Linked DNA regions of Homo sapiens: region 1 is linked to region 2. Evidence: fine-mapped QTL for protein levels in blood plasma. A gene starts in region 2. The other region holds a variant in brackets. All regions are shown on one strand. Distances are between the middles of the regions. Region 1 overlaps IL12RB2 (interleukin 12 receptor subunit beta 2). Region 2 holds the start of IL12RB2 (interleukin 12 receptor subunit beta 2).

Region 1 (4,000 bases), 22 kb after region 2:
CTGACAATTCTGTGCCACAGATGTCAAGGTGGCCACAGTGCTTAGGATAATGTTTGGAACTGCCCTGGGGAGCCAAGATGACAAGCAGGGTTTGGGGAATTTCAGCAGCGTAGGCTTGGTTACCTATCTACATGAATGTGGAAGAACATCTCAGTTCTACCAAAAAAGGGAGTTGGGTGAAGTATAGTCTTACATGACCATATAGTACAAATATTCCCGGGGTGTATCCCCTAGTCATAAGATTGACCTTTAAAAATTGTCTAGAATTCTAAATATTTAAACATTTTGTTCTTTTCTACTGTAAGTAGAAAGTAGCACATAAAACATGTTGCTACACGTGGTTGTGTTTTGTTTACAGGCTAAGTGGACCAAAAAATTTAACCTGGCAGAAGCAATGTAAAGACATTTATTGTGACTATTTGGACTTTGGAATCAACCTCACCCCTGAATCACCTGAATCCAATTTCACAGCCAAGGTTACTGCTGTCAATAGTCTTGGAAGCTCCTCTTCACTTCCATCCACATTCACATTCTTGGACATAGGTACATTTTATTTCACTGTTTCATTGGTACTTTATAATTATTTTTAAAATCACTCAAATCTTTTTTATATGGTTGTTTCAAGAAAGACAGAGATTGATGGAAATTGGCCAACAGGCATAAGCAAAAGATAGAAGTTACTTTGATGCAAGTAAAAGGGTGCATTATTCTGAGCTATCTAAAGATGGCTATACAAAGTGGGATGTTCAACATTATTCTCTCTATTGAAGAAATTAGCCCCTGGATTCAAATCCCATGAAAGAACCAGCTACTAATGATACCACCTGACTGAGGAGAGGGTCCTGTGAGGTCATTCAAGATGCTCAGTGCAAGCCCTTCTTGGAGGAGGTGTCCTTTCGCCCCCATGGCTACTCCCATTGTTGTGAGATAGGCTACATGTGGGCCTGCTAGGCTAGAGCAGCGAGGTACAAACTATAAATAAAATTTCTCAAGTCACAGATGCATCTTGCTCTGAGAATACTCACCTCCATCCCTGGAGTGAGCCAGTACATTTCTGAGCAAATGTAATCGGTCCAGTTGAATCAGAGGCCAATCTCAAGCATTCCAAGTTCTGACCATCCAGGCAGAACTGGGCTGCCTGAAGTTCCAACCTCACACTATGTGCTTCTCGCCTCTCTTTCCATGGCACTTCTCTGCATACATATTGCTAACGATGAGTCTGATCATTGGCATTTACTATACACTTTTCCACCATATTTCTTCTCAGGCTTCCTCCCATTTCTTTCATAGACCGTTCATCTCTAGGCTACCTTCTCGCCCCCTTGTTCTTTTCCTCTGTCCCTTTGCTATGAATTTTCCTACGAACATTTCTTCTCCTCCTGAGGCAGTCATCACTAGCCGTCTCTGGCTTCTCAGTCATTGGAACTCTTGGGTTTGGCACATTGGTTTTTGAAAAACCACTGGACTAAGTGTAGTTGAAACTTACCACTAATGTTGGTAGTAGTTATTTGGTGAAAATGAGATTTGATTAAGGGGGATTATTTTAAAGATTCAGAAGTGAATCCAGCTTTTAAAAAAGTTCTTTCTTAAAGCCTGGAACTTTTCTCTTGTATATTTTACCAAATTTGATGGTTGTGCATCTCAGAACTGAGTTTTGTCAAACTCTTTATAGCTCATGCCAGTACATAAGACAATTGCTGATCACAGATCCTGAACCACACTTTTTTGTTTGTCCTGGTTACTAGTGAGGCCTCTTCCTCCGTGGGACATTAGAATCAAATTTCAAAAGGCTTCTGTGAGCAGATGTACCCTTTATTGGAGAGATGAGGGACTGGTACTGCTTAATCGACTCAGATATCGGCCCAGTAACAGCAGGCTCTGGAATATGGTAATTATCTTTAGAGTGAAGGAAAAAACACTGAAGCATTCTTAATATTGCTGCGCAGACCTCTGTCTTTTCATACAGCAAAAAATAGAGTTTAAGAATATTTATCCCAAAAGTACACACGAGAGAATTATCAGAAAGTCATGTATGCCTCTGTTGATTAAGAAATATCTTGAATTTTGATCTCTGATTCTGAAATTTTTAAAGCTTTTGTAAACCAATATTAATTTTCTATAGTTTATTTCTAACAGAGGATTCATTTCTCCTTATTATTTACCCTGTCCTGTTATTATTTTTTAGCATTTAAAAAAGATATTGAAAAGAGAAATATTAAGAAATGTCCACAGAGAGTTATATAGAATTTAATATTCCAAAGAAAAGGTCTACAATTTAATATAATATTAGGCATTGCATGTTTTAAAATAAAAGGTATAGGATTATGATTCTTTCCGGGATTGTTGTAAAATTCAATGGCTTATAATAACAAAGGATCAGTCCCACAGATAGCTGATATTCAAGAGAGTATAACTAATTAAAGGGTTTTTTTAAA[A/ATTTT]AAAAAAAAAGCCAGTGCTATGTTTGTGTTAAAACATTCATCACATCCTAATTGTAATCAAATAAAAAATAATCTCTAGTGTAGAAACTTTGTAGTTTTCAATCTTATTTTTCAGCTGGTTTCAGGATTCCCCTCGAGAACCTACATAGATGGGTTCTTAGTACCCAGAGATTTTGTTTTATTTTTAATGAGATGCTATCATTTCAGATTAATATCATATCTATTCGGTAAGACAGTCACTGATATTTCTTCTCATTTAATGGTAGGTCTGAAAAACAAATAAGATCAAATAGCCTGGGTTTTTTTTTTTTCATTTTATGTTAAAATTCCTTAAATTAGCAATCTAGTATTAATAGGCACTTTAAAAAAATGTCTGTTTCAAGGTTAATGTTACAAAGGCCAAAGGAAGACATGATTTGCTGGATCTGAAACCATTTACAGAATATGAATTTCAGATTTCCTCTAAGCTACATCTTTATAAGGGAAGTTGGAGTGATTGGAGTGAATCATTGAGAGCACAAACACCAGAAGAAGGTATATGTCCAAAATATACATACCTATCGGGGAGCAATAAAGGGGAGAGAGGGGGGAAGATGTAATGATTTCCTTGGAATAGAATCTTTAAACTACTGGTGCTGAATCAAAAAGCATGACTGCATTAGTTAACAAGTTAATTTTTATATTAACTTAAGTGCTGAAACTGTTCAAGGAAATATGTTTGTGTTGCAAGGAAATTTTTAACATTGGGTAAGTTCTACTCCTGTTTGCTATCAGTCATGTTGGTTATAATGCTTGGTTATAACTTATCTCTCTTACTATCTCAGTAACTTATTTCACAGAGCTATAACCAGTAATTAATCTCATTTCTTGTTAAAGCTTCATATGTTTTATATTTTTGATTCTATGAAAAGTAATGTGGCTCAATAAGCCATATGGAAAGCTTGAAAGAAAGTAGGCTCTGGAGACACATATTTCAAAATAAAATTTAGCATCCAGCAATCCTCTCTTGTCCAAATATTATAACACTGTACTTCAAGCCTTTGATATTTACTGCACAAATGAGAACCACCTGGCCACCCATAACTATGAAAAGGATATCAAATGTGTTTTTCAGTCTGATGAATTTTTCTTTTTTAGTAATTATTGGGAAGGGAATGTTATTGAAGTATAAGAAAATATTTTATTGAAGCAAAAATGCCTATGTAAACTTTATGCCAATATTAAATCTTTGGAGACACAAGAAATAGCCATCTGAATATTAGTTTTTAAAAGCACTCATTTAGGCCGGCATGGTCGCTCAGGCCTGTAATCCCAGCACATTGGGAGGCTGAGGTGGGCAGATCACGAGGTCAGGAGTTCGAGACCAGCCTGGCCAGCATGGTGAAATCCCATCTCTACCAAAAAGACAAGAAATTAGCCAAGCATCGTGGTGCGTGCCTGTAATCCCAGCCATTCGGGAGGCTAAGGCAGGAGAATCACTTGAACCCAGGAGGCAAAGGTTGCAATGAGCCAAGATTGTGCCACTGCAATCCAGCCTGGGCAACAGATCGAGACTGCATCTCATA
Region 2 (4,537 bases):
AAAAAAAAAAAACAGAAAAACATATGTATATTTATATGTGTGTATATACACACACACACATATGCACACACAAATATATAAATTAAATTTTTAAATGAGATAGAGTAAAATGCATTTTTGAAATTATTGATTTATTAACAAAACTAAAAGCCTTCCTTCTCACTAAAAAGTGTTGAAAAATCCATGAATTATGCAAGATTGTTATAACATTTGGCTATCATAATCTTATTCTTGATATCAATCAGTTTTTAAAGTAATGAGAAGCTGCTGCATTTTTATATTTTTTAACAAATGGATTTAAAATCCACTGAACTGCTCAATTAAAAGATTGAAACAAAATAGCAAATTGTTTCCGAGTTTTTAAAAGCATTTTCTGTGATGACAATCATAAAATCTTCAGTAAGAAAAACACACAATAATGGGAACACTTCGAAATATTTGTTTTCAAATCGTCTCTTCATAACAACGTATCACTTGGTGTGAAAATTACCTTGAAGAAACAACAAATAAACCTCTGGGGTTTTTTGTTCTTCAAAAAGATCTATTAGATAACATGTACTGAGAGCCATATATCAATACAGAAAAGATCAGCAAATTTAGGATATTTGGGGTTTTTTTGTAAAAATAAAGAAAATAACTCACTTTAAGACAACTTTTAAAATCTTTGTTACAAATGATTTCTACAATTATGTATCATCTCATTACAAAGTAATATTAAGATTCTAGATTCTACGATTTAAAAGATTTTAGTAAAATTATTCATGTAGATAAATTACTAAAGCATGTAAACTACAGTATGTCACAATCCCATAAAGACAATCTACTGTACATTGTTGATTCCAAGATGTACATTTTTCATATTTAACATCTCAAACATTGAGAGCGGTTTTAAGGTAATGCCCAGAAGCGTGGTATGCAGTTGTCCACTTCTGCGGGCTCAGCAAACCTGTACTGGGCTCAGTGGACTAGAAGAAAACTCCAGAGACAACGGGGTGGGGGAGGGGGGGGGACTTAAAAAAAAATTCGATAGATAATATACATATGTTTAAAATCTAAATTTTATTTAGAGATATCTAAATAAAATCTCTAAACTAAATAAAATTTTAGTTTAAAAGATTCTAAATGTTGAGAAAGCATTGTTATTGTTTACCTGGCAGTTCTTTTTATTTCTTACTAGCGCATAAATAATGGTATATCTTATAATTAAGGAAGTCTTAGATTTAAAGAAATCTAAGCTGACGGGTGCAGAGGCTCAGGCCTGTATTCCCTGCACTTTGGGAAGCCAAGGCGGGAGGATTGCTTGAGGCCAGAAGTTTGAGACCAGCCTGGGTAACAGAGTGAGAGTCTGTCTTTACAGGTTTAAATACAGTTTTTTTCTAAGTAATATTGTCATAAATATTATGTCATGAATATTATGCAGAGCTGCCGACCCCTCTGTACTCTGGGCAGTTTTCCCTCTTGCCTGAGAACACCACTTATAACACGGGACCTATACGGGAGTGGTGACACGCCATCTGTTCAAGTTTAACTTTTTTCTCATTTTTTAGACAGCAAATACAAATGGAAGTTCCAGTATGTTCTGCCCGCACTCCAGTGGGCGGTCTTGTGCACAGCCCACTTGGGAGGCCTCGGCGCTCAGGTGTGGTAAGAGCTGGGCGGTGCAGAGCACAGAGAAAGGACATCTGCGAGGAAAGTTCCCTGATGGCTGTCAACAAAGTGCCACGTCTCTATGGCTGTGAACGCTGAGCACACGATTTTATCGCGCCTATCATATCTTGGTGCATAAACGCACCTCACCTCGGTCAACCCTTGCTCCGTCTTATGAGACAGGCTTTATTATCCGCATTTTATATGAGGGGAAACTGACGGTGGAGAGAGAATTATCTTGCTCAAGGCGACACAGCAGAGCCCACAGGTGGCAGAATCCCACCCGAGCCCGCTTCGACCCGCGGGGTGGAAACCACGGGCGCCCGCCCGGCTGCGCTTCCAGAGCTGAACTGAGAAGCGAGTCCTCTCCGCCCTGCGGCCACCGCCCAGCCCCGACCCCCGCCCCGGCCCGATCCTCACTCGCCGCCAGCTCCCCGCGCCCACCCCGGAGTTGGTGGCGCAGAGGCGGGAGGCGGAGGCGGGAGGGCGGGCGCTGGCACCGGGAACGCCCGAGCGCCGGCAGAGAGCGCGGAGAGCGCGACACGTGCGGCCCAGAGCACCGGGGCCACCCGGTCCCCGCAGGCCCGGGACCGCGCCCGCTGGCAGGCGACACGTGGTGAGTGACCAGTGACTCGGGGTCGGGGACAGAGAGAGCCCCAGGATCCCGGACCAGCGGGGTGTCTGCGTGCCCGGGATTCCGTGTCTCGCGTCTCCCGAGGGGGCTTCGGCGACGGCTTCTCTCTTTATATATATATATGTATATATATATTTTTAAAGTCTTCCAATACGATCCGAAATGGCTTCTCTTCATCACAGTCCTAACGCCCTGGGCACAGATGTTCACTTGGAGGTACTGGGTGGTGGTTTGGCTGGATGGAGGGGAGGGAGCGCGCGGACTGAGCCTCCAAGGTACTCTCTGGGCCGGGGCACAGAGTGGTGGGCTCAAACGGAAGGGAGGGGACGGCGACTGGAAAAGGGCAGAGGGCACCCCTGAGGGTCCAGCCTTGGTTCAGGCCCACAGACGTGGCTCCCGTTGCTTGAAAATGTATCAAATGTGAGTAAGATATTGGGGGGGGCCTTCCGTAGTCCCGGATGAGGGTGAACTAACCTTGTCTCAGCAGTCTTTCCTGTGGCCTCTGGACTGACCCCGAGTCCCTGCCTGGCCAGTTACTAGCAAGATGCTCTGGTGCAAGCAAATTGGCCAGCCTCAGTTTTCTCTTCTGTGAAATGCCCCTTCCTTTGTGAACTATGAGGCCCTCCTCATCTCCCTAGGACACACTAAATATCAGTGTCAGCATTGTACGGGATTATGTATCTGTACCATTAGATCCAGGTCTTACAAATAGTAACCTAAAAGCATACAAATAGACCTTGTCTAAGAACAGGGTCCCGGCACGGTGGCTCACGCCTGTAATCCCAGCATTTTGGGAGGCCAAGGTGGGCAGATCACTTGAGGTCAGGAGTTCAAGACCAGCCTGGCCAACATGGTGAAACCCTGTCTCTATTAAAAATACGAAAATTAGCTGGGCATGATGACGCACACCTGTAATCCCAGCTACTCGGGAGACTGAGGCAGGAGAATTGCTTGAACCCGGGAGACAGAGGTTACAGTGAGCCAAGATGGGGCCACTGCACTCCAACCTGGGCAACAGAGCGAGACTCTGTCTTAAAAATAAATACATACATACATATACATATATATATATATACACACACACACATACACATATATATATAAAGAATAAAGCTAAATTAGTCCTTTTTTCCCCATTTTTAAAACTCTAGATAATTGTTATAATCTGCTATGTGTGTGCTCTGTGTAGATGAACATCTTTGTTGAGCACCTACTATGTATTTGGTTTTTGGATATATATTATCTAATTCCTTAAAAACATGGTGAAATTGTTATTAGTATTCCCATTTTACAGATGTGGAAACTTACATGTTTCACACAGTTAGAGAGTTACAGGTTTCTGGCTCAAAACTGTGTTCCTTCTGTTTCCACCTCTCTGGCTCAGAACCTTATAACCACCTCCACTTGAACAAACAAACGTTGGATTCTCATTTTCCATTAATAGGAATGGTACAGTGCCCTATTTCTCTGTCCAACACATAACTAAAAGGACCTTAGTGGCTAAGAGCTAACACTTTCCTTCCCTATTTTAATGTGAAATCCTCAATACATTACACTATCTGTTAGGCACAACAGCCTCCAGAAAAGTTTGCAATATGCTCTTTTCCATATGTCATGCCTCTTGAATGTCATGTTCATTACATAGGCTGATAAATTCCCAAACTTTGACAAACGGAATCTTTTCTGTATTAGAATGAGTTTTAGTGTGAAAAAAAATTCGAAAGCACACATGTAATTTTTAAGGTAGAAGAATCCGCCAAGTACAGTAGGTATTGGGCATCATTTCTCAGTTGTGGACTTATTTTTGTATTGCTGCACCTGCTTTGTTCTCTACCAAATTATTTGTCATCTTTGTAATTACGCTCACAGCACTGCTGTCAACTCCTACAAATAAATTTGTGCAGAATGGCGGGACACGGTGTCTCATACCTGTAATCCCAGCACTTTGGGAGGCCGAGGTGGGGGGATCACCTGAGGTCAGGAGTTTGAGACTAGCCTGACCAACATGGCGAAACCCTGTCTCTACTGAAAACACAAAAATTAGCGGGGCATGGTGGCACACACCATGTGGCATGGTAATCCCAGCTACTCGGGAGGTTGAGACAGGAGAATCGATTGAACCCGGGAGGCAGAGGTTGCAGTGAGCAGAGATCACGCCACTGCACTCCAGCCTGGGCGACAAGAATGAAACTTCATCTCAAAAAAAAAAAAAAAAAAAAAAAAAGCCAAATCCCAAAGGAAGTCTTATACAATTTC

The links. PIP is the posterior inclusion probability: the model's chance that the variant is causal. Sun 2018 read protein levels with aptamers (SomaScan).
Region 1: its variant is fine-mapped to the plasma level of the IL12RB2 protein (Sun 2018, PIP 0.94).

Annotation. Positions count from the first base shown.
Region 1 is chr1:67,327,842-67,331,841 of GRCh38, forward strand. It overlaps IL12RB2 (interleukin 12 receptor subunit beta 2), which reads left to right. Exons shown (of 17, transcript NM_001374259.2): 6 at 359-543; 7 at 1,746-1,888; 8 at 2,819-2,969. Among named protein-coding and RNA genes, the nearest start is that of IL12RB2, 22 kb to the left of the region's middle. The variant A/ATTTT (reference allele first, on the strand shown) is at 2,436.
Region 2 is chr1:67,305,705-67,310,241 of GRCh38, forward strand. IL12RB2 (interleukin 12 receptor subunit beta 2) reads left to right here and starts at 2,169. Exons shown (of 17, transcript NM_001374259.2): 1 at 2,169-2,263. RefSeq lists enhancers at 1,392-1,491, 1,522-1,571 and a silencer at 2,032-2,221.